Linked DNA regions of Homo sapiens: region 2 is linked to region 1. Evidence: fine-mapped expression QTL. A gene starts in region 1. The other region holds a variant in brackets. All regions are shown on one strand. Distances are between the middles of the regions.

Evidence for each region. PIP is the estimated chance that this variant, and not a neighbour inherited with it, causes the effect.
Region 2: its variant is fine-mapped to the expression of GEMIN7-AS1 in sigmoid colon (GTEx, PIP above 0.99).

Annotation. Positions count from the first base shown.
Region 1 is chr19:45,089,130-45,092,036 of GRCh38, reverse strand. GEMIN7-AS1 (GEMIN7 antisense RNA 1) reads left to right here and starts at 1,646. Exons shown (of 2, transcript NR_134887.1): 1 at 1,646-1,968. GEMIN7 (gem nuclear organelle associated protein 7) reads right to left here. Exons shown (of 3, transcript NM_024707.3): 3 at 519-1,930. The coding sequence starts at 1,922. The coding sequence ends at 1,527. RefSeq lists silencers at 303-487, 2,188-2,361 and enhancers at 596-645, 256-1,250, 1,251-2,246.
Region 2 is chr19:45,601,869-45,604,775 of GRCh38, reverse strand. GPR4 (G protein-coupled receptor 4) reads left to right here and starts at 2,564. Exons shown (of 2, transcript NM_005282.3): 1 at 2,564-2,681. The variant G/A (reference allele first, on the strand shown) is at 1,636.

The DNA.
Region 1 (2,907 bases):
TTCGCTAGTCTCTAGTCCTCCATTTGCTCGCTGCAGTTACATCAACAGCTCTCTGTATCGGGGTAGAGTTGCATAAAATACAACTTAAATTACAATGCTAAAATAAATATGAGCCCATGAGCGGTATCATAGGCCTGATTTTAAAAAACAAAACCTAGGAGAAGGTAGAAATTCCAAAGGCGAGAGACGAATCTGCCAACCTAAATCCTGGGTGACAAGGCTGGTGGATCACCGAGGCAAGAAAGAACCAGCGTGAGCTCAAGCCACACCCCTAGGCTCAGACCCAACGCTTGACATTCGCCGCCGCACTTTCGCCACGCTTGCCGAAGCGCACCCGGCTAACTAGAGGAGGCGGGGCTGAAACCATAAAAGGGAACTGGGGCGGAGCGAGCTGCGTCGTCGCCAAGGCAACTCGAGAGCTAAGTCCGGGCCTCGGCGGAGCCGGCGCTGCGAATGGACTGATGGCCGCTGAGGCTGCTCCTGGCGCGGTTCATCATCGGCCGCCGCACTTTCGCGACTGAGACGAAACGACACTCACCTTTACTTAATGGAAGGCTTCGCTTACATCCTGAACTTAAAGGAACTACAGAAAGGGACAGAAACTGCTTTCTTTTTAAACAATGCGCTGAAAGGTTACTAGTGATAGGAGGCTTAGTGAAGCGCGTGATGTGAACGGCCACGCTGCAAGGCTGGAGAGAAAAGAGGAGGGAGTGAAGTTGCACCCTGATCGCGAATCCTCGGCCTTTTATCAGGGGCGCCGCCACTCGGGGTCCGACCATTCGCCTCCAACGAGGGGACAGCGAATCTGCTGTCGTGTGCAGTCCACAGCAACCACAGGTGGGGCAACAGGAGGAGCGCTTGGGCACGACCACGTGACCCAGCACGAGCCACCGCCCGCCCCAAAATGAAATCAAATCCTAATCTCCCAATCCCGGCATGCCGGTCACTCCAGCCTTTCCAGGAGACTTGCGGCCGTGCAGCCCCTACACCTTTATCTGGACTCCTGTCGTACTTGGCCCAGCTCCACTGGATTCAGCCCTTGGATAACCACCCTACCAGCCCCTAAAGATGACTCCATCCCCGTCGGTATAGTTAATTAAAGAAAAACAGGAGTCGAATTTTCCTGGGGTAACTGGTTCTTTAGCAGGAGGGGAGCACTGGGGAGTATCTTCAGGGTGGCTGGACTTTGCAGCCTCTTTAATAACTTCCCCCTGTGCAGGTTGTATCCTTTATCACCCCACCCCGATGCCCCGGTCTTCAGGAAATGGCAGCAGGCCCATATTTCTGTAGGGTTCAGAGTTCTGTGAGGTAGAGCATTCCTTCCAATGGGATCTTAGAATTCCTAGAGTTGCAGAATTTTACTGACTAGACCCAGGAGGTCTCAGGAGTCCAGACTTGCTTAAAGCTTGGCTCAAAATTCCAAGGGAGCTCATAACTCCATGGGGCCCAGAGTTCCTGGCTCGGGAACATTGGGAGGCCTGGGATACAGTGCCTTAGCCTCAAGCAGAAAAGTGAACACAATATCTTTATGGCTTGAAGGTATATGAAATAATGTCACTACATCGGAGCAGCGCCTCTGCTTGCACACCTATGGGAGTCTGCAGCTGTGACACGTAGAAGTTGGCCACATCCAGGTCGGTGGCTCCAAAGTGGGCGGCCACACGCACACCCTCGTGCAACGTGAAGCTCACCTGATGACCCACCATGGCCAGCAGGCTGCGGAGGTAACGCTCCCGAAGGGCGGCTCGTGCCCGCTGCTCCTGGGATTCCAGGGATTCTTGAGCTATGGGACACTCCTGGATTTCAGGAACCTCTGGCCTCAAGGGGGCTCTGCGTCCATCAGGGGCAAAGCCACGGCTGAAGCCATCAGGGCCCCGGGGCAGCCGGAGCACAGGCACGGGAATGTTCACTGGAGTTTGCATTGTCTTGGCTGTTGAGTGAAGAAAAAGAGCAGGAAGTCATTACATGGTAAGCATGGGGCTAATGGAGGAGGGAGGAGTGGAAGCAGAGGCTGGTCTACCAGGCAGCTCCACTGCACCTGCCCCAGACTGATCCACCCTCCTAAAATCTGTGCCATCGTCCCCCAATGGCTTGGATCAGAAACAAAAGTGTCACATGCACAAAAACATGAGCCCCGTGAAGGCAAGGACCTTTGTCTGCTTTTATAATGTTTTTATCTCAACTTATAGGCAATAAATATTTGCCAAAAGATGAACCTGGCCAGGCATGGTGGCTCATGCCTGTAATCCCAGCCCTTTGGGAGGCCAAGGCAGGAGGATCACTTTGAAGCTGGGAGTTTGAGACCAGCCTGGGCAATATAGCGAGACCCCATTTCTAAAAATATATATATATATTTTACATTAGCTGGGCTACTCAGGAGGCTGAGGGAGAAGGATTAGTTGAGCCCAGGAGATGGAGGCTGCAGTGAGCTGTAATTGTGCAACTGCACTCCAGCTTGGGTGACAGAGTGAGACACTGTCTCTAAAAAAAAGAATAAACCCCAGCTTTCTCTCACACACAACCCACCCAATCCATCAGGAAATTCTATCTTCTAGATAGATTCCCACTCACACATGAGCTAGCTTGAAAGGGCTCCCAGTGGCCAAATCTGGAATTATTTGAACAATACAATAATGATAGTTACAGATTATAACCCACTGGATAAAACAGAAATCCAGAATCCATACCAATAATAAATAAATGAATAAATAAGGAAGAGAAGGAAAATATAATCCTTACTGTAGACTGGCAAGTAAATAAATATAAAAGGAATAGATGCAAAAATGTGTGGATAGGGCCGGGTGCGGTGGCTCACACCTGTAATCCCAACACTTTGGGAGGCCAAGGTGGGCGAATCACTTGAGGTCAGGAATTCGAGACCAGCCTGGTCAACATGGCGAAACCCCG
Region 2 (2,907 bases), 510 kb before region 1:
AGGCATGAACCACCATGCCTGGCCTACATTTTAATTTAATTTAAAAATAAACACAAAAGAGCTGGGCGCGATGGCTGATGCCTATAATCCCAGCACTTTGGGAGACCTAGGCAGGCTGATCACCTGAGGTCAGGAGTTCGAGACCAGCCTGGCCAACATGGTGAAAACCTGTCTCTACTAAAAACACAAAAAGTAGCCGGGTGTGGTGGTGTTCACCTGTAGTCCCAGCTACTCGGGAGGCTGAGGCAGGATAATCACTTGAACCTGGGAGGTGGAGGTTGCAGTTAACTGAGATGGCACAATGGCACTCCAGCCTGGGGGACAGAGCAAGACTCTGTCTCAAAAAAACAAAAAACAAGCCAGGTGCCGTGGCTCATGCCTGTAATCCCAGCACTTTGGGAGGCCGTGGCAGGCAGATGACCTGAGGTCAGGAGTTCGAGACCAGCCTGGCCAACATGGTGAAACCCTGTCTCTACTAAAAACAAAAAAATTAGCTGGGTGTGGTGGTGCATGCCTGTATACCCAGCTACCAGAGGCTGAGACAGGAGAATTGCTTGTACCCGGCAGGAGGAGGTTGTATTGAGCTGAGATCATGTCCCTGCACTCCAGCCTGGGCACAGCAAGACTCTGTCTCAAAAAAAAAAAAAAAAATCAAACCTGACAGCTATCATTTTTTAGTGTTATATGCCACATCTATCTGAAGTCCCTTGACCAATAATGAATTCTCATGATTAGTTTATGAAAGATGTGATGTTAATAATAAAAATAAGCTAATGTTTTAGGAGCACTTATCATTCATTTGTTCACTCCCTGAAAACAATGTTTTTTGTTTTTTGTTTTGAGATGGAGTCTTGCTCTGTCACCCAGGCTGGAGTGCAGTGGCGCGGTCTTGGCTCACTGCAAGCTCCGCCTCCCGGGTTCATGCCGTTCTCCTGCCTCAGCCTCCTGATTAGCTGGGACAACAGGCGCCCACCATCACATCTGGCTAATTTTTTTGTATTTTTAGTAGAGATGGGGTTTCACTGTGTTAGCCAGGATGGTCTCCATCTCCTGACCTCGTGATCCGCCTGCCTCAGCCTCCCAAAGTGCTGGGATTACAGGCGTGAGCCACCACGCTCGGCCAGAAAACAATGTGTTTCACACCTATCACCTGCCCAGCAGTCTTCTAGGCAACAGACATGCAACAGTAAACAAGCCAGACACAAAAATGACACTCTTCCTAGTAGGAAGGCAGACAACTAGAAAAAAATAAGAGAATGTTGCCTTCCCCAAAGGGTAGGGGAAAAGTGAGGCAGAGAAAGATGGGGAGTGTTGGGGTCTGGTTGGCATATTTTACAGACTTGATAGCATTGACACCATTAAATGAGACCGCCAGGAGAAAAGGACCATGATGGCCGGCCTCGGTGGCTCAGGCTTATAATCCCAGCACTTTGGGAGGCCAAAGCAGAAGGATGGCTTGAGCCCAGGAGTTTGAGACCAGCCTAGACAACATAGTGAGACCCCTGTCTATAGAAAAAAAAAATTTTTTAAATTGGCCAGGTGTGGTGGCACACGCCTGTAGTCCCAGCAACTCAGGAGGCTGAGGTGGGAGGATCACTTGAGCCTGGAAGGTTGAGGCCGCAGGGAGCCATGATC[G/A]TGCCACTGAACTCCAGACTGGGCAAGAGAGTGAAAACCTGTCTCAAAAAAAGAAAAAAGGTGGGGCACGGTGGCTCACGCCTGTAATCCCAACACTTTTTGGAGGCCGAGGTGGGCAGATAGCTGGAGCTTAGGAGTTCGAGACCAGCCTGGCCAACTTGGTGAAACCCCGTCTCTATTAAAAATACAAAAATTAGCCGGGCGTGGTGGTGTGTGCCTGTAATCCCAGCTACTCGGGAGGCTGAGGCAGGAGAATCGCTTGAACCTGGAAGGCAGAGATTGCAGTGAGCCAAGATTGTGCCACTGCACTCCAGTCTGGGCAACAGAGCATGACTCTGTCTCGAAAGAAAAGAAAGAAAAAAGCAAAGCAAAGCAAAGCAAAGAAAAGAAGGAAGCAAGCAGGCACCATGAGTGACCACCTTGATTCAAAGAGGAAACTGAGGCACGGAGATGTCACTAGCCTAAGGTCTGACCAAGAGTCAGGCTGGAAATGCAACCCCAGAGCTCCTTCTAGGGGTGGCCCTGACTTTGGAGTTGGGGACCTAACAGAACCCTTTATTCTCTCCGTTGTTGGGGAGGAAGATGCAGAAGGTTAATGACCAGAGGATGAATGACTGAAGCCTGGGGTCTCTAAGGGAGGAAATGGCTTAACCCAGGGAAGGTCAGTAGCGGGGGCCTCCTCTTCCCATAGCCGAGGACCTGATAAATTTGGGGGTGTGTGGTTGGAGAGAGGGGACCTTCCAGCTGGGGACTTGGAAGGATTCGGGGGTGTTCCAGTAGCAGATGAGCCTCACCCGTGGCTGGAGGCGTTTAATGGGGTGAAGCCTGAAAGGGGTTAAGGGGCAGCGGCAAAGGTGGGGTTAATGGGGGCGGGCCTGGCCGGGGCGGGGCCTCGGCTGGCGGCTCTGGCCCGGGGGCCGGGAGGAGTAGCCGCTGTTCTGCCCCGCGGGGGCATCCGCTGGGTCCCCGCGCCGTTGTCAAGACCGGGGACCTGGACGCAGCGGAGAGAGGTGCCGCCGCCCGCCCCGTCCAGTCGCCGCGCGCAGGTAAGTGCCGGGTCCTCCCCGGCTGCCCGCGATGCTGCGGGGTCTCACTAGGTTGCCCTGCTCGTGGCGAGACCGCTCCTCCCCGCCCCCTCGGGGGCTGCCTCAGTCTCCCGCGCCGTCTCGGTGCCCGCCCCCTCTGTTGCTCTCCCTGGCTTTGCGTCTGTCTCCAACTCCCGCCTGATGTCTCTGTGTCTGTGGTCCCTCTGCCTCTGGACGTGTCTTTCCT